Regions from separate parts of the Homo sapiens genome. Here regions 1, 2, 3, 4 and 6 are each reported to be linked to region 5. The links are microRNA targets in miRTarBase. Many come from high-throughput screens and were not tested one by one. Region 5 holds a microRNA gene; each other region holds the end of a gene's coding sequence.
The links. The annotated mature microRNA hsa-miR-19b-3p reads UGUGCAAAUCCAUGCAAAACUGA and lies in region 5 at 2,228-2,250, shown strand. An mRNA with a match to its seed (bases 2 to 7 or 8) in the 3' UTR can be bound and repressed. Matches are read on the target gene's strand: a 7mer-m8 pairs with bases 2 to 8, a 7mer-A1 pairs with bases 2 to 7 and ends in A, and an 8mer does both.

Region 1: miRTarBase lists PRKN as a target of hsa-miR-19b-3p. Seed matches in the 3' UTR shown: 8mer at 1,899-1,906.
Region 2: the mRNA of ATF2 is a reported target of hsa-miR-19b-3p. Seed matches in the 3' UTR shown: 8mer at 926-933.
Region 3: miRTarBase lists CBY1 as a target of hsa-miR-19b-3p. Seed matches in the 3' UTR shown: 7mer-m8 at 4,142-4,148.
Region 4: the mRNA of ARID4B is a reported target of hsa-miR-19b-3p. Seed matches in the 3' UTR shown: 7mer-m8 at 618-624.
Region 6: the mRNA of FBXO8 is a reported target of hsa-miR-19b-3p. Seed matches in the 3' UTR shown: 8mer at 4,536-4,543.

What each region holds. Positions count from the first base shown.
Region 1 is chr6:161,345,660-161,350,735 of GRCh38, forward strand. It overlaps PRKN (parkin RBR E3 ubiquitin protein ligase), which reads right to left. Exons shown (of 12, transcript NM_004562.3): 12 at 1,758-4,552. The coding sequence ends at 4,440. Among named protein-coding and RNA genes, the nearest start is that of AGPAT4, 74 kb to the left of the region's middle.
Region 2 is chr2:175,069,947-175,075,022 of GRCh38, reverse strand. It overlaps ATF2 (activating transcription factor 2), which reads left to right. Exons shown (of 14, transcript NM_001880.4): 14 at 188-2,764. The coding sequence ends at 414. Among named protein-coding and RNA genes, the nearest start is that of CHN1, 67 kb to the right of the region's middle. RefSeq lists a silencer at 3,676-3,876.
Region 3 is chr22:38,672,885-38,677,960 of GRCh38, reverse strand. It overlaps CBY1 (chibby 1, beta catenin antagonist), which reads right to left. Exons shown (of 5, transcript NM_015373.4): 5 at 4,111-4,802. The coding sequence ends at 4,725. TOMM22-DT (TOMM22 divergent transcript) reads left to right here. Exons shown (of 2, transcript XR_007068097.1): 2 at 1,472-2,445. Among named protein-coding and RNA genes, the nearest start is that of TOMM22-DT, 6.4 kb to the left of the region's middle.
Region 4 is chr1:235,164,045-235,169,120 of GRCh38, reverse strand. It overlaps ARID4B (AT-rich interaction domain 4B), which reads left to right. Exons shown (of 24, transcript NM_016374.6): 24 at 469-2,219. The coding sequence ends at 596. Among named protein-coding and RNA genes, the nearest start is that of RBM34, 5.3 kb to the right of the region's middle.
Region 5 is chrX:134,166,857-134,171,932 of GRCh38, reverse strand. It overlaps MIR19B2 (microRNA 19b-2), which reads left to right and starts at 2,167; the gene lies at 2,167-2,262. It overlaps MIR106AHG (miR-106a-363 cluster host gene), which reads left to right. Exons shown (of 2, transcript XR_007068340.1): 1 at 1-264; 2 at 1,581-2,783. MIR363 (microRNA 363) reads left to right here and starts at 2,481; the gene lies at 2,481-2,555. It overlaps MIR92A2 (microRNA 92a-2), which reads left to right and starts at 2,321; the gene lies at 2,321-2,395. It also overlaps MIR20B, MIR18B, MIR106A and the pseudogene TIMM8BP2.
Region 6 is chr4:174,232,653-174,237,728 of GRCh38, forward strand. FBXO8 (F-box protein 8) reads right to left here. Exons shown (of 6, transcript NM_012180.3): 6 at 4,006-4,947. The coding sequence ends at 4,760. Among named protein-coding and RNA genes, the nearest start is that of LINC02268, 15 kb to the left of the region's middle.

The sequences.
Region 1 (5,076 bases), not on the chromosome of region 5:
AGGCAGGGGTTTTAAAGAATGACTCCAGCCAGATGGAAAAGCACGTATGAAGCATCAGGAGGGAAGCTTCTCATAGTAAATATAAACTGTAAACTGACGTTTTAGCTTTTATGCCCCGTTCTCTTAAGAGTTAGGTTAGCGTTAGTCTTTTGGGGCCCAGTCACCTCTTGATATAGTGACAAAATTGGTCCTATGCAGCTGAGGATGAGATCAGCGAGCATGGTGGGTCCCTCAAGCCAGTGCCACCCATCTGTATGGTCAAGCAGGTCTTCCCGGACAATACTCCCTGCTTTTTTTTTTTTTTTTCGGCATGTTATTTAAACCACAGCAACATTTCTTATTTTGTGTGAGACAGTTTATTCACAGTGGATTGAAAAGAGGCTCAATGTTGTTTTGAAATAGGATTTTCTTAAAAAAACTGAACATCGATATTCTCCACACTATCAGAAATGTTCTAGTAAGGGCAGATGGAGATGAGGCACGTCCACTACCCAAACAGGGATTGCCGGCTTTACCCCATGTCTAATGCTGTCTTCTGCATAAGCATTTCGCATTTGTGCTTATTCATTTCCACTCACAATATTAACCCGAATTCACACCCTGGACATCATCTGCACATATAGCGTGCGCGCGCACACACACACACATACATACACACAAACACATACACACACACACACAGCTAGCATAGCAACTTACCTTTATAGGAACACTTCTGGGGCTGTCTAGAAGATAATACAATATACGTATATGCAACATGAGTCACCCGCCTCTAACACGAATCCCTAAATCTACAATTGTGTGCTCAAATAGATATTCCTGGCACTTGTCATCACTTTGCATTAGTTTTGTGTTTTCTGTTATTTTATTCTGTAGTTTCCAATGACTGGTTCATTTTTTAACAATAGCGAACAATTACACAGTGCTTCGTTTATCCTACACACTGTTCCAGGTGCTTTAGGCAAATTAATTAGTTGTGACAACAACCTAACGTGGTGCATGCTATTATTGTCCCCGAAGCTCTTACACAGGTGCGTTTTGGAGGTGGGGTTCCCACCCTGGCACCCAGAGCTCACCCACTTTCTCTGCCCCCTTTTGCTCTATCATCACCTGGGCCACCATTCCCATGACCTTTGCATATCCTCGGAGTGTTTCCTGTGGCTACTGGCACCCAGAGGACCTCAGTGTGTACTTCTTTGCCTAATGTTGTGCAGGCCCTATCTCGGAATGTTCCATTCCAGATCCCTCCACCATGGGCTCATTGTGAAATAAACAATGCATGGCCACTAAAGCAGTTCTTTGAAAATGCAGCGTCAACACACCCACATTGACAGCAATGCAAAGTCACTGAAATTTTCTAGAATGACATGAGAAAAAATCCTTATAGATAGTCTTTTCCAATGCAAACTTCTCTTTTAAACACTTTTATTAGAAAAGTTTGCTAGTAAGGCAGGAAAGTAACTTTTAGATTTTTATGAATGAGGGTTTGCTTTTTGGAACCCTTTCAAATTTTGATAGCCTTAAAAAACTACTCTTATTTAACAAAGAGAAACAGCCAGCGGTAATCTGGAGCTTGGAGTTGATATGAGAATGGCTATTTCATCACCAGGTAATTCCTCCAGGTCACTGAATGGCTATTTCATCACCAGGTAATTCCTCCAGGCCACAAGTGAGGCCCATGGAGTAATACAGCCTGTGATTCCCTCCGTCACCCTTCACATTGATTGAAAATGTATCTTCAAAGACAGACTCAGAAGCTCTTTTGATGCTTTATTGACAATTTAAGTACAATCTTAGAGTTGTCAGATAATCTCAACACACTTCAGAGAAAAACAGACTTTTTCTGCAAAGACTTTATTTCTATTTTTTGATACATTCATATTTTGTTACACCCTTCCTGTGCAAATAATACTGTGATTCATGTTCATGTGTAGTGGATGATCTTGCTTTTTTGTTTTTGTTTTTTTTTTTTTTTTGAGACAGAGTCTCACTCTGTTGCCCAGGCTGGAGTTCAGTGGCGTGATCTCGGCTCACTGCAACCTCTGCCCCCCGGGTTCAAGTGATTCTCCTGCCTCAGCCTCCCAGGAAGCTGGGATTACAGGTGCCTGCCACCACGCCCAGCTAATTTTTGTATTTTTAATAGAGACGGGGTTTCATCATCTTGGCCAGGCTGGTCTTGAACTCCTGACCTCGTGATCCACCCACCTCGGCCTCCCAAAGTGCTGGGATTACAGGCATGAGCCACCGCGCCCGGCCTGCTCTAACTTATTTTAAGAATCACTGTTCTATTCTGGAAAGGGAAAAGACCACCACCAAGAAGGGAAAGGAGACCATGCTGGACAGCCTAATAGTCTAACAGGGGATCCTAGGGTGCCTGAGCTCATGGGAGCAAACCTTGTTCAGGCACCGCAAGCCCAACGCAGCATGCAGATTGGGAAGGCGCAATAATGCAAACACCATCAGGAAGAAAGCTATGGATGATGGAAAACACTGTGTGCTCCACGTGACAGAAGGGAGCCACCTGATTTGTCGCATCGGGCCAGTGTAAGGAAGTGTAATTTAGTGGGACTGCCAGTGACACTAAGTCAGGCCTTGATCAGGGTCTGGACTCAGTATGGACACGAGCCACTGGGTGCAGGGGGCTCATGCCTGCCACCTCTCTTTTTTTCCCTTACTATAGAGACTTTGATCTGTCCACCATTTCTATGTGAGCTTTGGGCTTCCTGTCACAGGTCTGTTGTCACCGTGGGGCCATGTTGGAGTCGGTAGATTTTCAGACAGTGAAGCCACATGAAGCTGTGAATGCTGATGTGGCTGCTGCAGAGCCCAGTCTCTCCCCGGTGCAGGGCCTCTGAGACGACGGGACTGTCCTCAGATGGTTGGAAGAAATGGGTTATCTTAGGCAGTTAGGAAAAGAGGGACAGGTGTCCCAGGATGTGGAAAACTTGAGTTCATCCCCTCTCTTCCCTCCAGCAAGGATTTCAGTGCTACATCTAAAAAGAGAAGCCCTGTTGCCGATTTAATAATTTACAGTCTCTAAATCCAAAAGGGCCTCCATGTGCTAGTGAGACTCATGCCCTCAGTTATGTTCACGATCTTCCTGAGAAGTCAGACAATACAGGTAGAACAAAAGATAGTGGTTGTACTTTCTCTTCTGCGTAGTGTGGGTAAGAGCATGCGGTTTGCCGCATGCAGTGTTGTTAATCTTTTGATTGTGTTGTGAATGGCTGAAAAAAAAGCTGAAAGTTTGATTGAACTGAAATCCAATCCATGTCAACATAAGGAATATTCTAGTGAGTTTACTGTCCTAAGAGAAGGTCTCTCCTGGGGAACCCCTGGTATGCAGAGCTCCCTGGGACTTGCAGATTGGACAGAGAGGGTGTGCCAAAGGGGTATAAACCCTTCTGATGGAGAGAGTCGGGCGTGTCTTCATTTTGGTAGTTCTGGAAAGGCTCCTCTTTAAAGATTCTGATTTAATAATGTTCACTTTTGTTAAGATTGAATATCATTTTGAAATCATTTCTAAACGTGTTTCCTTTATAGGCACTTTATCTATTAAATTTACAGTGGAGCCAAATGTATTAGCAAAATCTCCAAGTTGCAAAATGAATACTCAGAATCAAACTATAGATTTTTTGGTGATACTTTCAGAAAAACAATTTCTTTCTAAAGTTGCAAATCATGAAAGGGAATGAAAGTACATTAACTTGATTTCTTCCCTGTAATTCAAACATTCAACATTCAAATTAACTTTCATAATTTCTCACTTTGTGACAAGTTGATTTACGCATAGTTGGTATTTCATTAATGCGATTTATATAGATGGAATTCTTAAGGATAAACAAATGTTTTTGACTATTGCCTGGGGTTCTTTGGGAATAGATGCTTTCTGAAAATTTAAATAAGAACATTACTGTTAAAGCCATGAATCTAGTTTGGAGAACCCACTGCAGTTCATTTTACAGAGAAACACCTTGTCAATGGCATCTTCATGGTGTTTACTGAAGGTAAAAGGCAGGATATTAAATGTGAGAACTCTCTCTCCAGCTACTGATTCTGCCTGTCTCGAATTCAGGTGAGAATGACCCATACAGATACATGGATTGCACTTGAATCTGTGCTCTGGTATTTGTGTCATCCGGAGGCTGAGAACGCCTGTTGGTGGTGTCGCAGATGGCTCTGCTGTCTTGTGTGGACAAACTGAAAGGGATTCAGGAGCTTCTTCTGTAATTTTACTCTGCTGTTTTTCATGGACATAGTGAAAGGGATCCAGGAGTTTCTTCTGCAATTTGGCTGTAGTTGGACTTTGAAAAAAACTTGAAGAGTGTGTGTGCGCGCGCGCGCGTGTGTGTGTGTGTTTGAAAAGAGAATTAGAAAATGAAGGTAGACACTGGGTATGCTCCCCCAGGATGTGGCGATGGGGCGCCCGGCCGCCCTGGCTACACGTCGAACCAGTGGTCCCCCATGCAGACGCGGTTCCACTCGCAGCCACAGTTCCAGCACCACTCGAGCCTGCACTGGGGCTGCGGACACTTCATGTGCATGCAGCCTCCTGTTGGGGGCAGAAAACAAAGGTGTGGTGGGTTCGCAGCAAGTACCTGGAAAACACGCATTCCCAAACCAGCACGCTAGCCTAGACATCACTTTCTGAGCGAATAATCACAAGCAATACAAGGGCAGAGAGAAACTTAACTGAGGGGAAAAACTTCATAAAGCACAATAGGGCAGCTCTAAAGTGATGATATTCATTAAGAAATGAATGAAATTGAAGCATGTCACTTTTGTCGGGAACAAATTTTATTTGTAAATCTGACTTTATTCTCCTGAAAGGGGATTTAGAGACAAACACTTCATGTTTCATAGATAGGGGTCAATTCCTCATTTAAATATATTCAAATATTAATATATTTATATTTAAAATATATAAATATATTTTTATATATTTATATTTAAAATATATATATTTTTATATATTTATATTTAAAATATATATATTTTTATATATTTATATTTAAAATATATATATTTTTATATATTTATATTTAAAATATATATATTTTTATATATTTATATTTA
Region 2 (5,076 bases), not on the chromosome of region 5:
TGCCTTCTTTTGACCTATTGCAGGTAAAATTGCCTACTTCATGACCTATATCAATTGCTGTAATACCAACTTGTCTAATCAGTTTTGTAAGATACTTTCTAACTTTTTACTCTGTGTATTGCCTCAGCATACTGGTGCATTCTTACCGATTTTAGGAAAATGAATAATTTTTCTTTTTTCCACCCAGCTGCTGATAAAGATGATAGTTCAGAAGACATTTCAGTGCCGAGTAGTCCACATACAGAAGCTATACAGCATAGTTCGGTCAGCACATCCAATGGAGTCAGTTCAACCTCCAAGGCAGAAGCTGTAGCCACTTCAGTCCTCACCCAGATGGCGGACCAGAGTACAGAGCCTGCTCTTTCACAGATCGTTATGGCTCCTTCCTCCCAGTCACAGCCCTCAGGAAGTTGATTAAAAACCTGCAGTACAACAGTTTTAGATACTCATTAGTGACTTCAAAGGGAAATCAAGGAAAGACCAGTTTCCATTTATGCGAAATCTGTGGTTGTAAATTTTTTTTTTTTACTTGAAATTAAATTTGGCTCTAAAGTTGGTGTAGCAGCAGTTGATCAGACTGAAAAACGGTTTTTAGTCTCTGGAAAAAGACTGATTTTGCTTTTTTTATAAATATTATTAGATTTATTAATTTTTCTGTGCTCAATGTGTAAATTGTATTATAATTCATTGTGATTTATTTCACTTTTAATTTGCTGGTGTTTTAATAAATGGGGGTGTTACTGAATCTTTCTTCCCACTTCCATTTCTTTTGACCACCCCTTAACCCTCAACTGTGACGGTAGTAGTATTATCATTTATACCAAAGTTTTGCATAGTCCCTGTTGACTTTGTAATGTTAACGGAGTCATAAAAGCACTAGGCAAGAGAAAGATAGAAATTTGCTTTTAATCTTTTTGCCTTTTATTTTGCACATTATGCAAAAGGAAAAACATTAAAGAACACTTTTTTTTAAGTGAGTGAAAACATGGTAAAGACATACAGTGCTTTTATGCACATTGTTAAGCTAAATCAAGGTCATTTATAATCATTTTCCTTTTTTATTTAAGATTTTAAGTAAACAAATTTTAGAATTTTCAGCATTTCAAAAATGATTTTATTTTTCAAGTCTTAAATTCAATATTTTACACCTATGTTTTGAGGCTAAAAATATGAAATTATATAATGTATGATACAGGGTTATCAAATATCTAATAATTTTTGAAATTAGCTCTTGTTTTTGGTTTTTTTGTTGTTGTTTTTACAGATTTCAGGTTACAAACTGCAAAGTTTATGCATAATTAAGTATGGTATGGTTGCCAGAAAAGCCTAAAATTACTACTTAGAAAATTTAAGACTGTTTACCCCCATTGTCTTGTACTTGCGAGCTAACTTGTACTATTCTTGTGAAAGCACTGTCATCTTTTAGTAGCAAATTTTGATAATGTTTCTCGTGGAAAAAAAAATCAGTATCTATCTTTAGAACAATGTAATTATAATGTGGGAAGTGTGCATGAATGAGAGAGAGTGTGTGTGTATCTGTGTGTGTGTGCGCGTGTGTGTGTGTCTTTTAATAGTTTATGCCAGCAATCTTTGCTTGAATGTTTAACGATGCCTTCAGTGTGATGCTGGCCAATAGATGATTGCAGTTTAAAATGTCATTATTGTGCAGGCTTGGATAACTAACATTCCATGATGTAGCTTGTTTCTGATGAGATGATTGTAGGTACATTTTTCTCATTATCCAATCATCTGTGGGATACTTAGTTTTCTAATGTGCCATTATCTATTTTTATTCTGCAGTTATGTTCAAAATACAGTACATATTTTAAAATAGAATAAATTGTTAAACATAAAATTTTAAAAGTAGTAGATGTGCGTAAGAAAACTTTGTAAAATAGTTATGAGTCCTACCCAGTAGCAACTTCTGGCATTCAAGCAGGATTCCACTATGTAAATATCTGTAATGCATTTATAATAAGTTGTGTAGTTTGTCCTGCATCCATACTACACTATTTGCTAAAGTCTCAGTGCCATCTCCTAATGAGACTGACATTTTAAAAGTCTGTATGGAATATCCTTGATAATTCAAGGAAATATCCCTCCTGCCTAAGTTCCAAACTGGGAAACATTCAAATTATATAAATGACATTTCAGGACTTTAAGTATGAAGATAATGGGAATTTTATTGTTTTGCTTTTTAAAATGAGAGCATTTTTATTTGATAATTTTTTTTAAATTTTTAATTTTTAACTAATTTCATTATTTTAAAGTAATCAGTTTTTCAAATCATGATTTTGATATCATTATTCTAAGGAGTTATCTCAAAGGCACAAAATATGAATTCTGCAAGAAGGCTATTTTTTATTGTAGTTTGAATGGGTTAGGAAAAGCCTCAATTTTTCACTCTTAAGTCCTTCAGTACATTTTTCTTTCATCTTATTACTTATGCAAGTTAAGGTTCTTTGGTAACAGAATTCTTGCAACTGTAAAATAAAACTACATAGATGTAAGAAGTCATGTAAACGGTTAACAAGCTTACCAAGGTTAGCAAAACTTTCATTGTAAATCAGTCTGTACTGAGCAAATAAAAATCATTATTAGTTGTATAAACACAAATTCCATTTTGACTTTCAGGATGTCATACTACTTCTGTACCTAGCATTTTCAGTCCTTATATTTGCAATGTTACACAAACTGTACTATTTTCTTTTATGTGCAGTTTGCATGAGTAAACCATCAGAGAATAAATTCTATCTTTAAATTATGTTCATAATTTGCTTGTTCTCTTACCTTTCCTTCATAAAGTAACATCACCAGATAATGATTTTTTTTTTCCTTCAGGACATTTATTAACTGAGAAGAACCTGAGATTCTTTCTAGTTCTGTGATAAAATTCATTCATTCCTTTTAACTGCAGGGTACTTGGGCCTTATTCCTCTCTGCACTCACTTTGCATCCCATTTATATATAATGAATTATATAATTATATAATTCATATGTAATTCCCCACACCCCTGAACTTTAGTCACAGATCCACCTGCCTTTGGCATCCCTTGGTGATGGCCTGACAAAACATCTGAAACATAACATGTCCAACACTGAACTGCTAAACAGCTCACCCTACCCTCAAACATTTCTCCCACAAACTTTCACAAGTCAATTGATGACAATACAATTCTTCAAGTTGCTTAAGCTAGAACAACCTTGTTGTCACCCTTGATTTTCTTTCTCTCAGCCCACATCCAGTCCGTCAAGAAATACTATTTGCTTTCCCCTCAAAACAATCCAGAATTCAACCACATATCACCATTTATACCACTTTCATCCTAATCTGTGCCTTTATGATTCCTCATCCAGTTACTGTACTTGCTTCATAAATGTCTTTTCACTTTCACCCCTGCCCACCACAGCCCATCCTCAATACAGCAGCCAGAGCGATGCTTTTAAAACTTTTGTCAGGTTACAGCACTGCTCTGCCTAGAATCCTGGAGTGGCTCCCCTGTTTCACTCAGAACTTGAAGACGGCCCACAAAGCCCAGAGATGATTTATTCCATATCCCATCCCATTGTGTCTCTGACCTCATCTGCCACATTGTTTTGTCAGTGAACATTTGAGTGCTACTAGGTGCCAGAGGTTGCTCTAAGCACTTGAAGTAACACAATGGCCAAAAGCAAAAATCTCTGCCTTTGTGGAGGCCACGTTCTAAAGATGGTGGGAGGATGTTGGGAAATGCAATCAACAAGTCAGTTATGTGTTATATTAGAAGTGGTGCAAGCTAAGTGAAGAAGCAGACTTACACCAGTTTTGCTGGAGAGTGTGTAGAGTGACCGTTTTAGTCATATCTGTTAGATATGACCAATCTGAGGAGATGCATGGCTATTTTTTAACAAACATTCTACCAATGTGCTTAAGGTAGATTATGTGATATAGATAAAAAGTTTCATGAAGGCAAGCTGATGTATTTCTATAACAGGTTAACAAATGATCAAACAGGTTAACAAAAGGTCAAACTCATGTTAGTCTTGACTTCAGAGGACAGGAAAGATAATCTCGTCTATGGTGTGTGCTTACTATTAAATGTAGTTTTGCTAATTCTACATCTATGAGACTATAGGATATGATGGATGACCATATTTGAGATTATCATGAGAGAATCCTATTTATTCCAAGGCCCTCATCTTAGATAGACATGAACAAACACAGACACCCAAAATACCTAGAGAACACAGTTATCAAAGCAAATGAACTTTTCCTGTAATTGTCTCACATGGCTTAAAACAACAGCAAGTCTTTCCAGATTATCAGTAACTATATATTGAAATGTGGGTGTTCATAGAGTTAATAGTTTGGTATTAAGATCCTAGACAGCTAGCATCCTTCTGTGTGGAAAAAAAATCTCAAAGTTTAGAATATTTCTAAAGTCCTTTCTGAAGAAATAAATGGTTCTACCATTTAAATATAAATGATGAGTTGCAAGTTACATACATTGCCGTAGAATAGGTGCCATCAGTGAAAATGTTTCCAAAATTAAAAGACTTAATCTGAAATAGCAAAGGCCATGTGGCATTGGAACCTACAATGGAAGAAAAAGCATGCATAGTTTTCTATTGTAGTCCAAATCAAAGGTTAATTGTAAAAATATCAAATATGTCACAGCAATCAAACCAGAAGGGCTCTGTTAATGGGCAAGTGGCTTGCATCATTTTTCTTCAAATGTACATGCAAGTTCTTCTAGTGGCTTTCCAAGAAGAGAAGACACCTCATTTTCATTAGTGTTGCTAGTACACCCTTGTCATGGTCACAGTGCCTTCCCTTGTCTCTGTGTTGCATTAGATTTTACATGTGAGACATCATTTCTTGAGACATAAATTTTTGAACAAAACAATTGTATTGGTGTTATCAGGCTTTATCTCAGTTATTTGGGAAAATATTTCTTACTCTGAATCTCAAATTTTAACTATGGCAGTTATGTCAAGAATTGGCTTTAGTCATTTTGCAGTATATTTTGCTTTCTAGGAAAGTATTAATAGAAAAAAACAGAATATTCCCCCAAAACAGCTTCTTTTAAAGTTATT
Region 3 (5,076 bases), not on the chromosome of region 5:
TGGTGGCAGGCGCCTGTAGTCCCAGCTCCTCAGGAGGCTGAGGCAGGAGAATTGCTTAAACCCGGGAGTTGGAGGTTGCAGTGAGCCGAGATCACGCCACTGCACTCCAGCCTGGCAACAGAGCCAGACTCTGTCTCAGAAACAAAAAAAAAAGACAGAGTCCTGTGGAATCAGACATTTAAAGATTGGGGAGAGAGGGAAACCAGAGGGCTGAGGAATTGCTGAAGTCTTCAAGAGGAAGGCTCAGCAGCAGAGATGACATGGTGAGACTGGTGCCAGGATGGAGGTCGCATCAGTGGACAAGGGTGTCAGCAAGTGAGTGGCAATGCCCCATGCTAGGAGCCCAGGTGACTGCCATCGGATGGGAGAGGCAGGTTCAAGAACGCTGGGCTCTTAGCTCCTCTACTCCCCATCTCTCGAGCCCAAGATTTCCACCTTGCTTGTTTCTGTCCTGTCAGAATTAGAAACATGTGATATAGTAGCTCTTAATTGGGGGGTGGGGGCATGGCTCCCTTCGAGAATCCTATAAAAACTATAAGCCCCTCTCATTAGAAAGTGCACATTAGCCCATGCCTGTCCTGTTGTCTGCGCAGTTCCCCTTGCTAGGACTCAAACTCGGTCTTCCTGCCATTACTGCCTCTAATCCTGCACTCATGCCCTCCCTCTCGTCCACAGAATCTTCTTTTCTTTTCTTTCTTTTTTTTTTTTTTTTGAGATGGGAGGCTTGCTCCTTTGCCCAGGCTGGAGGGCACTGGTGCAGTCTCGGCTCACTGCAACCTCCACCTCCCAGGTTCACATGATTCTCCTGCCTCAGCCTCCCAAATAGCTGAGATTAGGTGCCTGCCATTATGCCAGGCTAATTTTTGTATTTTTAGTAGAGACAGGTTTTTGCCATGTCGGCCAGGCTGGTCTCAAACTCCTGACCTCAGGTGATCCGCCCGCCTCGGCCTCCCAAAGTGCTGGGATTAGAGGCATGAGGCACCGCGCCAGGCCCTTTTTAAATTTTTTTTAAAGAGACGGTGTCTTGCCCTGTCACACAGGCTGGAGGATACAGTGGTGCAATCTTGGCTTACTGCAGCCTCGATCTCCCAGGTTAAGGGATCCTCTCACCTCGGCCTCCAAAGTAGCTGGGACTACAAGTGTGTGTCACCACGCCTGGCTAACTTAAATTTTTTTTTTGTAGAGATGGTGTCTCAGTATGTTGCCCTGGCTGGTCTCAAACTCCTGGGCTCAGCCCAATCCTCCTTCCTTGACCTCCTGAAATGCTGGGATTACAGGCGTGAGCCACTGTGCCTGGCCAATAAAGTCTTTGAGGATGAAGAATTTTAGCCAGAACCTGAAGGATATATCTGGCTCTATTTAGATTTGAAAATATATAATGTCTCAAGAAAAACAAAACAAAACACCTCGCTGAAGCAAACAGGGTTAGTGTGGCGATATATGGGTGATTTTTTTTCCTTTTCTCCTAAAGACTTTCATTCATGGGACTGTCCCTGATTCCCAGCCATCACGGGGAGGCTCTACCTTCAAGTGTTATCCAGAATCAGACCACCTCACCTCATCTACTGTGGCCTCCCTGGGATGGGCCTGGCCTCCTTCAGTCTGTTCTCACCACAAAGCCACCAGAAGGATCCTTTTATTTTTATTGATTGATTGATTGATACGGGGTCTGACTCTGTCAGCAGGCTGGAGTGCAATGGCACGATCTCACCTCACTGCAACCTCTGCTTCTTGGACTCAAGCAATCCTCCCACCACTGCCTCCTGAGTAGCTGGGACCACAGGTGCACACCACCACACCCAGTTAATCTTTTTGTATTTTTGGTAGAGATGGAGTTTCACCATTTTGCCCAGGATGGTCTCAAACTGTTAAGCTCAAGCAATCTACCCACCTCAGCTTCCCACAGTGCTGGGATTACAGATATGGGCCACCACGCCCAGCGCCTTTTAAAAGTGCAGTTGGATCATAGCATTTATCTGCTCATAACAATGGCTTTTGCTTCCCCGCTCACTCAAAAGAAATTCCTTCTTCACTGCAGAACTGCCCCTCCTACCACAGGATGTTTAGGGTTCCTGGCTGCAACCCCCAAAGGTCCTAATGGTGCTGGTCATGGGGGGATCCACACCATTGTGACAACGAAATATGCCCACATGATGCCCAAGGCTTCAGTCCTGGCCCCACCCTTCCACTGTGTCACTGTGCTGGGTTGGTTTTCTCATCTAAAACATGGTGATGGGGATAACAAACTTGAAAGAGTGTCATGCAAATGAGGTGTCCAGCATCGGGAGGTGTCCAGCATCAGGAATATTAATAAAGGGTCCCCAGTGATACCGGCCGAGGCATAAGCAAACTCCACTGCTCCTATTATCTGCACCTGAAGATTTACACCTTGCATATATGTGGATCCTTTTCCAATTTCTTCTGTATTAAACATTCTCTCCTGTATCAGAAAGTCAGGTTATGGGTTGGAGCTACAAATCTGCCCTTCGATCCATCCCCCCCATAGAGTGCTTTGCTGGCCGTAAGGATGGACTGCAGACAGCAGCTCCCTTTGAGGCCGCCCCCAGCTCCTCTCTTTCATAGCGGGCTGTGTGAATCAAGCTCCAGCACTTCTACTGTGTGATCCTAGATCAGTGTCTGAACCTCCCAGAGTTTCCTTCTCTGCAGATGGATGTGCCGATAGCCCCTGCTACACAGGGCTGAGCTGAAGGGGAAATGAGACAGTGAGAGCAAAGGGAGCCTGGTGCCAGGCATGTACCGGGCATTCAGAAGTGGCTAACCATGGTAGCCTGTCCCTAGTCTAAAGCCCTGGGCACCATGCCCCCACCTCCACCCCCTCAGTTCCTTCCCGCTTGACTTCAGGAGCTGGATTCCCTCCTCTTGCCAGAAAAGTCCAGCTCATACTGCCTACGGCACAAATTCTCACACCAACCATTAGGTTCCTGCCAGGTCCTGGCCAGTCCCAACACCATGAAGCAGGAGGGCAGGCGAATTTTGAGCAGAGAGACTGTTTCTGTTTGGCATCAGCCTCTGCCAATGCCCAGGAAAGCTGGAATGCTCTCCTACAAGAGTGACAGTTCCCCACACACTAAACATTCTTTTTTTTTTTTTTTTTTTTTTTGAGACAGAGTCTTGCTCTGTCGCCCAGGCTGGAGTGCAGTGGCCGCCTCCCGGGTTCAAGTGATTCTCCTGCCTCAGCCTCCCAAGTAGCTGGGACTACAGGCATGTGTTACCACACCCAGCTAATTTTCTTTTGTATTTTTAGTAGAGACGGGGTTTTGCCATGTTGGCCAGGCTGGTCTCAAACTCCTGACCTCAGACGATCCACCCACCTCAGCCTCCCAACGTGCTGGGATTACAGGCGTGAACCACCACGTCCGGCCAATTCTGTCTTTTGATGGAACAACAGAGGCTTAGACTCCAGGCTCCAGTTACTTTTTTTTTTTTTTTTTTTTTGAGACAGGGTCTTACTCTGTCACCCAGACTGGGGTGCAGTGGAGCAATCACAGCTCACTGCAGCCTCAACCTCCCTGGGCTCAAAGTGATCCTCCCATCTCAGCCTCCTGAGAGACTGGGACTACAGGTGTGCACCACCACGCCCAGCTAATTTTTTTTTTTTTTGTATTTTGTTTCGCTATTGCCAGGCTGGTCTTGAACTCCTGAGCTAAAGCAATCAGCCCGCCTCAGCCTCCCAAAGTGCTAGTGCTAGGATTACAGGTGTGTGCCACCACACCTGGCCAGGCTCCATTTAATTCTTTTTTTTTGGAGACGGAGTCTCGCTCTTGTCGCCCAGGCTGGAGTACAATGGTATGATCTCGGCTCACTGCAACTTCTGCCTCCTGGGTTCAAGCGATTCTCCTGTCTCAGCCTCTCAAGTAGCTGGGACTACAGGTGCCCACCACCACGCCTGGCTAATTTTTGTATTTTTAGTAGAGACGAGGTTTCACTCTATTGGCCAGGCTGGTCTCGAACTCCTGACCTCAGGTGATCTGCCCACCTCAGCCTCCCAAAGTGCTGGGATTACAGGTGTGAGCCACCATGCCTGGCCAGCTCCATTTACTTCTTGAGAAACTCATGGTTCTCTTTTTAGTCACTTTGGTCACAGAGAGATTATTTAACATCGTTTAATAAAAAAGTAGTAGTGCAAACAGGAAAGTAGCATAAAAATATAGTGTTGTTGTGGAAGGCTGGTGCTTGCTGCTGAGAAGCTGAAGCCAGAGGAGGCCAGGTGTGAGGAAGGAGGATTCTTTAAAGGCAAGAAGAGAGAGGCCTGCCTTTAAGAGCCAAGAGAGCCGCTCATCCATGACCCCAACACAGAGCTCTGTAGAACTGCTGTCACACGCCAAACACCAACATAAGGGGGTGAGAGAATGAACTCCAGCCGCTTCTCCCAACACAACCCAACAGAGCTATTCTGGGACATGTGTGTTTGCGAGCTTGTGTGTGGAGAGCACCAAAAAGCTCATCAGCAGCCCCAGGCCTCTGTGCGGTCTGGTTTTCAGACTGGCACCCGCAGGCAGTGCATCTGAAGCACCTTCTAGTTACTATCCCCATCTGGAATCTTGGTTTTCTCCATTCCATGTCACCTTCTATTGCCAACCCAAGGGTGCCAGTGCCTGTGGGTCTCATTATATGATACTCTCTTCCAGGACTGAATCCGCTAGTCTGGCCAAAAAAAAAGCACTCAGCCACATCCTACTCCCCAATAAATGTCTCTGGGGTCTTCATTTTCTCTTCCGGCTGATCCTCAGTTCATCCAGTTCCTTCTCCATTAAGTGGGATTCAGCAGTGGACTCTGAAAGCTGAAAGTGAAGCAGCGGCTGTTAGCAAGCAGCACATTTCTAGGAAATGTTTCGGGTTAGCAAGGCCGGCCCTACACACGGAGGAAAGGCCCCCTGCCACTTCTCTGATGCTGCTGGCTTCCTCGATGGGAAACCCTCTGTAACTGGGTAGAATGCAACCCCTGATGACCCAGGACCACAAGTACTTGAAGAATATTCACAGTCCACTCTGTCAGCACGCTGTCACCCACGAGGGCATGGCACTCCCTGCACGAAGGAGAGCAGGTCTCAGAGG
Region 4 (5,076 bases), not on the chromosome of region 5:
TCCAACTTGAAGAAGCAATTAAGCCTCCCACTCTTGTCACCATTTACATGTACAAGAAAACTCCTAAGTACAGAAAGATGGAGGGATTAGGAGGGGACAAATGATTTTTGGATGGATTGCAGATTTTTCCTGTTTTGATACTTGTTTCACTGTTACAAAAAGTGTATTCTGTATTTTATTTCTGTGTCTTGTAGACTAGGCACAGTTCTTTCCCTCTTTGACCCACGCAGGAGCCTTCCCTGGTCTGTCCTTTTCATTACTTCTGTAGTTGGGCACTGTCTAGCTTCTTGAGCTACACTAGCTTTTCCTTTCTTCACATCGTAGAACTGTGAGAATTGACCACTGTTGTTGTAAGCTAAATGATTTTGGACAATATAGCGGAATTTTAGTTCAGAGGACTAGTATTTTCTGTCTATTGTTAGACATAAATTTTTATTAAGCTCTTGGTTTGGTCTCCCTTTTCCTTAGGTGCTGCTACATCCTCATCCTCCTCTTCACCTTCATCCAGTTCCATAACAGCTGCTGTTATGTTAACTTTAGCTGAACCGTCAATGTCCAGCGCATCACAAAATGGAATGTCAGTTGAGTGCAGGTGACAGCAGGACTTGCTAAAGCACTTTGCACTTAATGGCTGTTGAGGGCCACTTTTTTTTTATACTGCACAGTGGCACAAAAAAATATCAGACAAGCACTATTTTATATTTAAAAATTGTTTCTTGACAAGCTGACTTGGCACTTAAGTGCACTTTTTTATGAAGAAAAAGTACAATGAACTGCTTTTCCTCAAGCAATAATTGTTTCCAACTTGTCTGGGAATTGTGTGTCTGGTAACTGGAAGGCCTTCCACTGTGGCAAATGGAGGCTTTTCACTGCCTGTAGAGACAATACAGTAAGCATAGTTAAGGGGTGGGTCAGAACATGTTAAGATAACTTACTGTATATGTATTCCCTTGTATTTTGTTAAAGCTGGAACATTTGATATTTTTCCATTTATTTATGAAAAAATATGAACCTATTTTCATTTGTACAAGGTAATTGTTTTTTAAAGCAAGTCACCTTAGGGTGGCTTTAATTGTATAAGTCAAGCACATGTAATAAATTCAAAACCTGCAGTTAACAGGATATTAGACATCAATCCTGGTAACCAAATATTAAAGATTCTCTTTAAAAAAGACTGAACATGTTTACAGGTTTGAATTAGGCTAAAAGGTCTTGCAGTGGCTTTTCATGGCCCTTCAAATTGGAATGGAACTACTGTACTTTGCCATTTTTCTATAAATCAGTATTTTTTTTTAATTTTGATATACATTGTGTGAAAAAAGAAAATGGCTAATAAACTGTATTAAATCTTAAACAATGTATAAAGATTGTACTTAGCCAGTTCAAAGTGTATATTTATTCATAATGAATTATAACAGTTATATTTTTGTGTTTTCTTGTAAATGTTTCTTTTCCCTTAAATACAGATAATTCATTTGTATTGCTTATTTTATTATGAGCTACAACAAAAGGACTTCAGGAACAAGTAATGTATTAGTATGGTTCAAGATTGTTGATAGGAACTGTCTCAAAAGGATGGTGGTTATTTTAAATATAAATAGCTAATGGGGGTGGTAGGCCTATAAAATTAAATGCCTTGTATAAAATCCAAAATGAATGCAAAATTGTTTTCACTTGTATTGACTTTATGTTGTATGATTCCAATCTCTGTTCTGTTTGGCACTTGTATTTAATTCTTCACCTTTGTAAGACATTTGTATATTGTGGATGTGTTCATTCAAGCTATTTAATATCTGGCACTGTTAATACACAGTACTTTATTGTACAGACTGTTTTACTGTTTTAATTGTAGTTCTGTGTACTTTTTTTGGATGGGGCTGGCATGTTTTCTTTGTTTCCTGGCAATACGACGTGGGAATTTCAATGCGTTTTGTTGTAGATGCTAACGTGTCAGAATCCTTTACATTCAACTTTTCTAAGAAAAGCATTTTCAGTCTTGTAGTGTGTGCTTACAGTAACTAATTTTGTTGAAAATGGTTTCAAGTTATTCAAATTTGTACAGGACTGTAAAGATTTGTTGACAGCAAAATGTTGAAGAAAAAAGCTTATAGAATAAAAGCTATAAAGTATATATTAGGATCTGCAAACAATGAAGAATTATGTAATATATTGTACAAATGTAAGCAAAGGCTCTGAAATAAAATGCCATAGTTTGTGAATCCTTGATTTTTGTTTCTAAAAGATTTAGTAATTTTAGTTCATTTCTGTATGTGATGACTGACTGGAACATACATATCCAGCACGTATTATCACAGGGGATTAATTGATACACAAAAAAAGGAAGATTCTACCTATGAAAATTAAAAGTCCATTAATCAGATAAGGAATGTATTAGGCATTCTTTTTTTTTTTTTTTTTTTTGGACACGGAGTCTTGCTCTGTCACCCAGGCTAGAGTGCAGTGGCGCAATCTCCAGCTCACTGCAACCTCTATCTCCCGGGTTCAAGCAATTCTCCAGCTTCAGCCTTCCGAGTAGCTGGGATTATAGACATCTGCCAGCACTCCTGGCTAATTTTTGTATTTTTAGCAGAGACGGGGTTTCACCGTACTGGTCAGGCTGGTCTCAAACTCCTGACCTCATGTGATCCACCCACCTTGGCCTCCCAATGTGCTGGGATTACAGGCGGGAGCCAACACACCCAGCCTAGGCATTCTTTTATCTTTGCACACACTATTTTGCTTGAGTCTGAATTTAAATATTTTTCTTATCACTTGAAGAATTGTCCAAATTTGAAAATTAAGTGTTTTTTTTAAAATTTATTTAACACTTGAAACCATTACCAGCGGCTTTTTAAAATTTTTAATTTAGTTAGACCTTTCCGGGTCTTTTATACTTCAGTGTGTTCTATTGCACATTGCAATCATCTGGACATTGTTAAAAGTATATTCAGTACTCACACCCCACTCCCAAGGAGTTATATTTAATTGGTTGGGGGTAGTACCTGGATGTTGATCTTTAATTTTTAAAGGTCTCTAGTGATATTAATATGCATCTGGGTTGAGAAACACTGCTTTGCCGCAAACTTCTAAAAATCTATAATCTAGTTTTTTGGCCCCACTTATTGGACTTTCTACCAACAGAAAACCTTTCTTGGCTGGGCGCAGTGGCTCAACGCCTGTAATCCTAGCACTTTGGGAGGCCGAGGCAGGCGGATCACGAGGTCAAGAGATCGAGACCATCCTGGCCAACATGGGGAAACCGTATCTCTACTAAATATACAAAAAAAAAATTAGCCAAGCGTGGTAGTGGGCGCCTGTAGTCCCAGCTACTCGAGAGGTTGAGGCAGGAGAATGGCATGAACCTGGGGGGCGGAGCTTGCAGTAAGCCGAGATCGTGCCACTGCACTCCAGCCTGGGCAACAGAGCGAGACTCCGCCTCAAAAAAAAGAAAACCTTTCTTTAATACAGAGAGAGGCCGGGCGTGGTGGCTTAATGCCTGTAATCCCAGCACTTTGGGAGGTTGAGGTGGGTGGATCACCTGAGGTCAGGAGTTCGAAACCAGCCTGACCAACATGGTGAAACCCTGTCTCTACTAAAAATGCAAAATTAGCCGGTCATGGTGGCGCATGCCTGTAATCCCAGCTACTAGGGAGGCTGAGGCAGGAGAATCGCTTGAACCTGGGAGGCGGAGGTTGCAGTGAGCCAAGATTGCACTCCAGCCTGGGAAACAAGATTGAAACTCCGTCTCAAAAAAAAACAAAAACAAAAACAAAAACGAGAAAGGAAATCAACTTTTTTAAGGCCTAGAAAGCTTAAATACATATTTTTTAAAGCATCTTTGTGGTGGCCCTTTATTTTCACAAAAATTAGTTTAAGGGATGATATTTTAAATCTGTGGAACGGTGCTTCCCAAAATGAATTCCTAGAATACTGGTCCCTGGAAATGCTCTGGGAATTTATAACCAAATATATTTTGGAAAATCTATGTATAGCACATTCTTAGAGAATCACAGTGTTTGCATATTAAAAACTTTGAGAAGGCCTGTGAAGAGATACCTGCCTAATAACTTCCTTTACCCTACTGTTTTCAATCCCACCTAATCATGAAACCCTGTTTTTTGAGGAGCTCTTAATATCACATACTGAGTATGTTATAGAAACAGTGCTGAATAGGGGAATTATTCCAAATTTTGGTGGAGTCGAGATTTATGACTTTGTGCCTCTCTGTCTCGCCTGCCTTCTTGTTCTACGTCCTACCTTCTTAAGAGGGTTTGAGGATTTTATTGAATTAGTAGAATTGACCTATGTCTACTTCTGGTCACCTAAACTAGACTTTACTAAGTTAGTTTACAATTGACATATTAAGATGGTATGTTTTTCTTTTCTTTTTTTTCTTTTTTTGAGACGGAGTCTCACTCTGTTGCCCCAGGCTGGAGTGCAGTGGTGCAATCTTGGCTCACTGCAACTTCTGCCTCCCAGGTTCAAGTGATCCTCCTACTTCAGCCTCCCGAGTAGCTGGGACTACAGGCACGTGCCACTGCACCCAGCTAATTTTTTGTATTTTTAGTAGAGAGGGGTGTTTCACCGTGTTAGTCAGGATGGTCTCGATCTCCTGACCTCGTAATCTGCCCGCCTTGACCTCACAAAGTGTTGGGATTACAGGCATGAGCCACCGCGCCCACCCAAGATGATACGTTTCTTAACGGTGTTCTCCAAAACGTTTTTTTTCCTACTGAAAAAACTTTAGAGTGGGGTCTTGTTAATTTCTTTTTTTTGTTTGTTTTGTTTTGTTTTAGACAGAATCTCGCTCTGTCGCCCAGGCTGGAGTATAATGGCGCCATCTTGGCTCACTGCAACCTCTGCCTCCCGGGTTCAAGTGGTTCTCCTGCATCAGCCTCCCGACTAGCTGGGATTACAGGCGCCCGCCACCATGCCTAGCTAATTTTTGTATTTTTAGTAGAGATGGGGTTTCACCATGTTGGCCAGGCTGATCTCAAACTTCTGACCTCAGATGATCCACCCACCTCGGCCTCCCAAAGCGCTGGGATTACAGGCGTAAGCCACCGCACCCGGCCT
Region 5 (5,076 bases):
AGGGGGTGCACGTGGAGGGAAAAAAGGGACTCCCCTCCCTCTTGGCTTCTATCCCACCAACCCGGGAATGGAGGGGGAGGGAGGCGTGGGCTTGGCGCGTTTTTGGTGCTTTGAATGGAGAACTCCGTTTCCCATGATGCTTTGTTTCTTTCTCTTTAATTTCGGCGGCGGCTGAGGCTGCACGAGGACTGGAGCGCGTGGTGTGAGCAGCTGGAGCACACCCTGGACGCGCGGGCTGCTCGCGGACTTCAACGGGAGCATTAGGTAAGGGTGTGAGAGACGCGGGAAGAGGCAAAAGGGAGCCACAAAGGCGTACAGGGAAGGACTTCTTTCTTTCTTTTCCTTATTATTATTATTATTATTTGCAATTTAAGGGGATTGGAGAGTGACTGCCCAGCGTGCGCGAGGGATGCCAGATGAACCGCTAATTAGCAAAAGGTAGTAACTAGAAGGGCGCCCTGTCTGATGGCTGTGGGGCTCAGTTTGGCCAGGTTGGGTTGGCAAATACTATGCATTTTGAGTCAAGTTTGGAGTATTTTTTTTTTAATGGAAAAGAAATCTTCACAGGTGTAGAAACCCAATTTAAGGGGAAAAATGTTATTTTTCTCATTTCTATACTAAATCCATTCTTCCCTAATAGAAAATTGATTCCAGATTGATGTATAAGTTTTATAAATCAGTTTAGTTTGTAAAGACTTCTAAAGACTCATTTAGTGGCATAAGATATCGTGACGAAAGTTCAACATTTAAAATTCCCTCACTCGTTTAACGTATTACAGATTCTGTCCCAAACGTTTTTGTTTTTCTTTTAAACAAAAGTTACCCCATCATGGAAGAGATAGGGGACCCTGTGAGCCTTTTTCACATAGAGGCTCACTTCCTTGCTGTATGTTCTTAGGTAAAATAAGCACTTGGAAATGGGAGAAGGTTTTCTTATGGAAGATAATGACATGAAGGGAAGAAGAGCTAATCTGCCTACTTTGGTTTAATGGAGAAAATGGGTCCATAAATGTTTAAACAGAAGTAGAGCCCTTTGAAATAGATCAAAATGTGACATCTCTCAGCCATCTGTGCATTATGTGAAGACTGTAAGGCTGTGTTTCTTAAACCAGCTCTAAAATTTCTCTCATTTTCTATTAATGGGGTGGGGGCTGGGAATATTCATTTAATCTAACAGTCACTTTCCGTATGGAGCCCAAAAGCTCTGAATGATCTGAAGACTCGAATACTCATCCTGGGTTTTACATGCTCCTTTCTCTAGGTCCTCCTCTTATAAAATCAGGGTGGATAGAATGTGCCTGCAAATTACTGAGATGCAGATATCAAATTTTCTTAGATGGAGAGGGGGAGTCCAAAATCTGCTTATACATAAGAATTGGACTTTTTGCAGTTGCCAGTGTTATTCGTGTTCAATTCTGTGTAAATAATTGAGATTATTAATATTTCTCAGGATTTGGTTGAAACCACAAAACCTAGCTTAGACTCTGTAAGCCAAAGGAAAGCCTGTTTCAGGAATATTAACTAGTAGTTTACTTGTTTAGTTTCTAATATGTGTGTGTTTGTTTTGTTGTTTTAACCAGGTGAGTCTGCATGGATCTGTGAGGACGGAAAAGAAGAGCTCCTGGAAGACTTAAAATTTTGCTACAGGAATAGGCCTTGGCCATGTAAAAGTGCTTACAGTGCAGGTAGCTTTTTGAGATCTACTGCAATGTAAGCACTTCTTACATTACCATGGTGATTTAGTCAATGGCTACTGAGAACTGTAGTTTGTGCATAATTAAGTAGTTGATGCTTTTGAGCTGCTTCTTATAATGTGTCTCTTGTGTTAAGGTGCATCTAGTGCAGTTAGTGAAGCAGCTTAGAATCTACTGCCCTAAATGCCCCTTCTGGCACAGGCTGCCTAATATACAGCATTTTAAAAGTATGCCTTGAGTAGTAATTTGAATAGGACACATTTCAGTGGTTTGTTTTTTGCCTTTTTATTGTTTGTTGGGAACAGATGGTGGGGACTGTGCAGTGTACAGTTGTGTACAGAGGATAAGATTGGGTCCTAGTAGTACCAAAGTGCTCATAGTGCAGGTAGTTTTGGCATGACTCTACTGTAGTATGGGCACTTCCAGTACTCTTGGATAACAAATCTCTTGTTGATGGAGAGAATATTCAAAGACATTGCTACTTACAATTAGTTTTGCAGGTTTGCATTTCAGCGTATATATGTATATGTGGCTGTGCAAATCCATGCAAAACTGATTGTGATAATGTGTGCTTCCTACGTCTGTGTGAACACACCTTCATGCGTATCTCCAGCACTCATGCCCATTCATCCCTGGGTGGGGATTTGTTGCATTACTTGTGTTCTATATAAAGTATTGCACTTGTCCCGGCCTGTGGAAGAAAGGAGGATTTTTATCGTCTTCTTATTTTAACTTTTAAAAGCCGTAAGTTCTGATATTTAGTCATTGTAAAATGATCTGTTTTGCTGTTGTCGGGTGGATCACGATGCAATTTTGATGAGTATCATAGGAGAAAAATTGCACGGTATCCATCTGTAAACCGCAGGACCTTTGTTGGCGACATTCCTGATCAGCGCTACAGTAAGCTAGATGGTAAAAAATCCTTTCTCTAGTTGCTGCTATTAAAAAATAATTTGAAATATATTTGGATTTCTAAAAACTATGATAGCTAATTTATAAAGTATGTGTTTTGGAACTTTGGTGAATGATCAGATTGTTACTGAATGTGAATGAACCTCAAAATAAATGAAATTTATAGATCTGAAAAAATGACTCTTTTTTTTTTAAAAAAAATAATTAGCAATGCTAGAGGAGTTTGTAAAATATCTCTTGGGAGGATCCTAAAGGAAAACTTGGACATAGCTGCTTTTCAAGTTTGCATCTACATAAAGCACCAAGATGCCTAATTTTAGGAATTTTATTACCCTGACAATATTTGGATGACATGTACTAATTTTGTTTTAGTACACGTGCTCATTCTTAGGAAGGGAATGAAGAGTTGTAAACCAATGGGACACATACCTTTAAGGAACTGGGCACATTTTGAGGTCTGACAGGAGAGAAGAATGAACTTGTCAATCAAACTCTGTTTTGGGGTTCTCGGAGAAGAGGATTTGGTGGCAGGGCTACTGAGAGGGATGGCTGCTGCCTTGCTTTGGAGTCTAGCAGATGGAAACCTGGATGTGGGCCTACTGTTAATATTTAGGGTTCGGGGGCTCCATAGGGTGACTAACCTAAAGCAGAAATTTCTCATGCGCAGCTAATTAGTGGTTTGAGACTGAACACCAAAAGTTATTTGGATCCTCTAGTGGTTCTTAAAACTTTAGCACTTACTAAGACACAGCCAGCCAACCCCATCTCCAGAGATTCATTCAATAGGTCTGGATGGGGCCTAAGGAATTGCATTTCTTTATTTTTTTCTTTTTGAGACGGAGTTTCGCTCTTGTTGCCCAGACTGGAGTGCAATGGCCCGATCTCTCATTCACCACAACCTCCACCTTCCGGGTTGAAGTGATTCTCCTGCCTCAGCCTCCTGAGTAGCTGGGATTACAGGCGTGCGCCACCACGCTTGGCTAATTCTGTACTTTTAGTAGAGACGGGGTTTCACCATGTTGGTCAGGCTGGTCTCGAACTCCTGACCTCAAGAGATCCACCCACCTTGGCCTCCCAAAGTGCTGGCATTACAGGTAAGGAATTGCATTTCTAACCTTTCCCTAGGAGCTGATGCTGCTGGTCAAGACACCATACTTGCAGAACCACTGCTCGAAAACAGCTAACGACAGCTTCTAGGACAAAGTTAACAAAGGAAGTTGTTTATTTTAAACTTCATAAAATTAAAAGAACTCGAAGCAGGGACTGGCTTGCTTTCCAGTTCTATGTTTCATATTTTAATGTTAATCTTTAACATCATGTATTTGGCAAATGAAGAAACGAGGCTTGTGGTAGTTTTACTGTCTGCCAACATGAACATTTAGTTCTCATCAAAAAGGTGCTGCCAAACTAAAAGATGGTATCAGTATGTGTCATTCTTACTTCCTGGTGCCATGGAATTTTCTAATTTTGAAACCCTTTTGATTTTTCCTCATAACATCAGTCCATTTTAATCAGTAAGAGGAACTCTCTCTGAATTGCATTTTAATCTTGAGCTAGTTGCCTAAGGCTTCAATTTCCTCATTAGGGGAAATACAGTGATAACATTGGTCTACCTCAAGGATATGTGGGTTAAGTAAGTTCTCTGGTGGTGGCGGCTGGGGGGATGGATTTTAATTGTTAGTGATGAAGTGAAATCTTAATGAAAAGAGACTTAGGGTAGTAAATTCTGTCGTCCAGTATTAAGTATGTGTGTGTAATTTTTTAAAAGTGACTAATGCTTGAGGCAATTATACAAACATAAATAACTACAGGTATTTCCTGTGTTGTCTAGTGCTGACTACGTTGTTGGTGCCTAATCATAGTTAAGTTTGATGTGGCAGCAAAGAAAAGGGTCTCCCGCCCTTTAATAAAGTAGCTCAGTAAAAGAGGGGATTAAAGCTTATTTGTTGTAATCCTTAACACCACCAAACCTCCACTTTAATAATACAAATTTATTGTCCTAGTGGTTCACTGGTGCTTTACCTAACGTGGCTAGTATGCAGTCAGTTATTGCAGTTTCCACTTTTAATAGGCTTGTGTGGAGGAGCTGTGTTCCTTAGGGTAGGCCACTCTGCCCACTAGAGTCAATTCCCTCACCTAAAGTTAGGGCCGAACTTGATGATCTGAGGACCCTTTCTAGCTTCAAAAATTCTGATTCTATATTTGCTCAAGTTAGACTAATCCAATAATTCTTTTTTTTTTTTTTTTGAACATTTCATCTTTTACTTTTTAGGACCAACAGACTTGATAACAGCCTGATGCTGATCTGACAATGGGTTGACAGCCTTCCCCCACTGGCCCTTAAGTCTGCTTAATAATAAGTCCTTTGCTTCTGTCATTCTCCTGGGGGATGGCCTACTGCCCTCCTTTCTGTACAATCTGGGCAAACCGACTGGTGATGGCAAGAGTGGTGTCAATGAAGTGGTCTACA
Region 6 (5,076 bases), not on the chromosome of region 5:
TAATTTGGTAAACATTTACTAAATGTTTATAATTAAGGTTTTTCATAGATAGAACATGTTAAAAATTTCTACTCACCTAGTTTTAAAAATAATCAGGAACAAATCCCTACTCAGTAATCATAGGAAGTAGAAAAAGAATACTACCCAATTGGAGAGGGTTCCACTTCAAGTGATGGTCAAGAAGTTCTTTCAGACCAACCTGCCAACATATGAAATTACAAACTCTGGACAAAATATTTAAAAATTAACTAACTGAAAGTAATAGAAAACAACCAAAAGCAGGTTGATCCTACAGAGGAGTGAATACTTAGAAGAAATAGCACTGGGTGAGTTTCCTATTTTTATAGTTCATAGCCTGAGGAACTCCTCACTCTGCATCATGTGGAGACTACAGTTGTATTGACTTGAAGAACACTAGGACACGTTTGGGGTAATGGCAACTGCTGGAAAACGCAGAGGGAAATCCTGATACGAAAAGAACCACAGAGAGAGCCCTAAATTCTGTGTATGACTCTGCTAAAGCTGGCTGGTCTCCCACGCATGCATGTACAGAAGAGATTTCAAGTACAATAGCCAGGTTAAAAAGCTGAACTAAAATCTGAGCTGCCACGAACTCTAGGGGAACCAGAGCTTGCAGCTGGCAGTTTGGCCAAGTTAACTAGCTGCTTTAAAAAAAAAAAAAAAAAAAAAAAAAAAGAAGCCTTTAGAGAAACAAATAAAAATCCAGGGTTTCTGCAACATTTTACTTACCATGTTCCAGACACAATCTAAATTACTCTACATATGAAGAAACAGGAAAATGTAACCCATTCTCGAAAGAAAAGAAAATTAGAGAAGACTGACAATGAAATGATCCAGAATATTGAAATGAATATTGAATATATTCATACATTAAAATAAGAATTTTGAAAATTGAATATTGAAATATCCAATACTGAAATATTGAATATTAAAATACTAAATATTAAAATAGACAAGTATTTAATATTGAAATAGAATACTGAAATGAGCCATCAAGTATCTTAGCTATTATAACTATGCTAAAAGGTGTAAGGAAAAATACACCAGTCATGAATGAAAAGATAATCTCAGCACAGAAATATAAATTATAAAAACTAAATAGAATTTCTAGAACTAAAACATACAATAATTAGAATAAAAGTTCACTGAATGGGCTTAAAAGAAAATGAGTACAGAAGAGTCAGTGAGTTGGACTATACAAATCAAGTGAAAAAAATCCAATTGAAGAAAAAAGAGAAAAAAAGGGATGAAAAACCAAGAGCTTCAAAAACCTGTGAGACAATATCGAAAGGTCTAGCATATTCATAAATGCAGTCCCAGGAGGAGAAGAGAAAATGAGATTGAAAAACAATATTTGATGAAATAAAGCACTCAGAGGAAAATTACATTTGTTCACAAGGGAAAAACTATTTGAACACTACTCTTCTCATTGGAAACAATGGAGGTCAGGAAACTGGAACAATATCCTTAAAATGCCAAACGTGGGGTGGGGGGAAGTTAATCTAGAATTATGTATTCAGCAAAAATATTCCTCAGGAAGGAAAACAAAATAAAGACATTTTCAGATTTTAAAATTTGTCATACTTAATTTCCAGCAGATCTGAACTATAGATGTTAAAGTTTTTCAGTTTGAAAGGAAAGATGCTACAAGGAAACTTGGATTTTTCAGGAAGAAATAGAGCATCAGAAATGATAATTTGGGTAAATATAAAAGAGCATTTTTTTAAATTTAAAATATATATGTCTGTTCAAAGAAAATTATAACATTATATTGTGGAGTTTATAACATATACGTAATACATTTAATAAGATAATGGATGGGGTGATAGGGTAAAGAGGCTTACATGGTTGTAAGTTTTCGATGTTTCATGTTATATAGTACAATATTATCTGTAAATAGGCTGTAAAGTTGTATATTTTGAACTGGGTTTGCTTTGCCCAGGTATACATGCATTTGCGGAGACTCATTGATTAGTACACATAAATTTTACCTCAAACAAAAAAGCTGGCCTGGCACGGTGGCTCATGCCTGTAATTCCAACACTTTGGGAGGCCGAGATGGGTGGCCCATAAGGTCAGGAGATTGAGACCATCCTGGTTAAGCAAGAAATGTGGTCTTACTATGTTGCCCAGGCTGGTCTGAAACTCCTGGGCTCAAGCAGTTCTCCCACCTTGGCCTCCCAAAGTGCTGGAATTACAGGCTTGAGCCACTGTGCCTGGCCTGGTTAACACGGTGAAACCCCATCTCTATTAATAATACAAAAAATTAGCTGGGCGTGGTGGCACGTGCCTGCAGTCCCAGCTGCTTGGGAGGCTGAGGCAGGAGAATCGCTTGAACCTGGGAGGCGGAAGTTGCAGTGAGCCAAGATCGCACCACTGGACTCCAGCCTGGGCAGCAGAGGGAGACTCTGTCTCAAAAAAAAAAAAAAAAAAAAAAGCTAAAAAAATGATCTCTAGCTAATGATTTGCAAGTTTAATTAAGTCTTTAGGAAGGAAGTTACGTCTCAAACTTATTTTTAGCTGTATCAAAATAATTGATGGATAGAGGAATAGATAAACATGATTTAGTGAATACAGTAAAATTTTAATTGTAGAATCTAGGTGGTGAGTAGGCATTCTCTGCAAAATAATTCCACTTTTCTATTTTAAAATTTATTTTATTTTTAAATTTTATTGACACAGGGTCTCACTGTTGCCTAGGCTGGAGTGCAGTGGCAATCACAGCTCACTGCAATCTCGAACTCCTGGGCTCAGGCCATCCTCCTGCCTCAGCCTCCTGAGTAGCTAGGACTACGGACAGGTATGTACCACCACGCCTGGCTAATTTTTTAGTTTTAAGTAGAAACGTGGTCTTGCCATGTTGCCCAGGCTGGTCTGAAACTCCTGGGTTCAAGCAAACCTCCCACCTTGGCCTCCCAAAGTGCTGGGATTACAGGCATGAGCCACTGTGCCTGGCCCCACTTTTCTATGTGTTTGAAATATTCCTAAGAAAATGTTGGAAAAGGAAATATTGCCAATCCACATTTATAATCAAGTCAGGGTAGAAAAATAAAATAGGAAAAAGAAAAAAAGTTAGGAAATTGAGGATACAAAAAAAGGAAAAGATATAAGCTAAAACAGAAGCAGAGAGAACTGGATGGTAAGAGACAGGTATGAAGAAAAACAAAGAAGGAAAGACAGAAGGAGGTAGACAGAGGGAGAGGGCAAAGTGTTAATCACTGAAAACTAGGCATGATAGTAAATAATAGTTATCACCACCCTTTGTCTTTTGAAATGTAATAAAGCAGTTTTGAAGTTAAAAATTAGAATTGTCATGGAATTCAAAATTGTGCACATGCAAAAATGATTTGGATATTTGCTTCAGAATCTTAGAAATTATTTACTATCAGTCTAAAAGTCCCTTAGACATTCAAAATTTGATTATCGTATGTCTTGTCCTTGAAAAATCTGTAGTACAACATTCCAGTTGTAATATTGACAACCACTTTTGACTAAGGGTCAGATCTGGAAGGAAGCCAGGATTCAATACCTCTAGTAAGGAGTTTTTACCTCCCTCAACTCCCTCCTCTAAACTAGTAGCTCAACCCATCACATACTATTTCATTCCTAAGGTTATGCTTTTTACTTGGAGGTCACTTTTAACTTACCATATAACTACACTGTTCTCTATCATTCTAATGCTGCATATTTTAACTATTAAATAATTGTTAATTAAGATATACTTCATATAGTTGCTCTCCATTCAGCAGATTTTTTCTTCTCAGTACCCAGTTATGTATTATCTGTGAGAGCAGGGCCCATGTCTAGTACCTCGCACAATGTTAACACATGTAAAGCCCTGGATAGACATTCACTGAACCAATGAGTAAAGAGTGTTTACTGTTCTTCACAATATGTCTTTCTCAATGGACTCTGAACGGGGATCATCAAGATTACAAAAATAGTAAAGTTTGCATAATCACACCACATATAAGCAAGCAAACATTTACCAGAGTTCTAATAATATTTTATTTTATTCCTATGAATGTAAATCATAAATTTTGATGTTTTAAAAATCCTAAATGGTTTAAAGGACTTACCGAGACTTGATTAACCCAGTTTTTAAAATAAAAAATCAAATTATAAATTTATATTATAAAAATAACTGCCAGTTTTGCATAGTAATATAGTAACAAATCAACACTCTTCAAAGTTTAAAGGAAAAGGAAGCTGGTATTGGTTTCTGTCTGAAGTCAGATCTAACTTTTACGAAGACAATAGTTTCAGATCAGAATCAAATAAATTTCAGAACTCAGTTTGAGAGAAAAGGAAAAACTTTAGTTAAAATCTTTACAATAAAATAATTATGACTATAAATCTCTTTAGTTAAATATGTACACATTACATGGTATTTGTATAAAGAATGGAAATGGATAAAGTTTTTCAGGCAAATCTAATGCACAAATACACCATCTTTTAGAGTATAATGTCAGTTTATCATTCGTTAACAGCTGTGTTAGACAGTGGCTCTGCTTTGTGCAAAACGTGATAAACAAAATTAGGAAAAATTCTGCAAAATTATTTAGTTCCCCAAGGAAATTACTAAAATAGAAAATGGCAAAAGAAAAAAAGGTTGCACACTGAAGCTTGATTGTATACTCAGGCTACAATGACCAGCACTGATGTAACCCCCATATCTGCTAAGTCCTTGGGTAGCTTTAGTCTGAAGTAAAAACTGAAGTCCTAGCAATTGTGCTTTTTATGCAGCCACATGGCCAATAAGGTAGATATTGTCATAAAGATGCCCTACAAAATCTTCACTAATATTTTGAGCAGCGCGACGGGTATTTCGAATAAATTCCCTTTTTGACATTTTATTCTTCACATGAGGGCTAGTGAGGTCAATGGAAAGTAGAATCAAAGAGTAGCACAGTACATAGACAGCATCTGGAAAGAAAAAGAAACAGTTCAAATTATTAGTTGGTTTACAAAATATGATTCCAATGGCATTATATAAGGCAAAAATGTTCATAATTTCAAGATATCAAGATTAGCTCATAAATACAGAGTGACCAA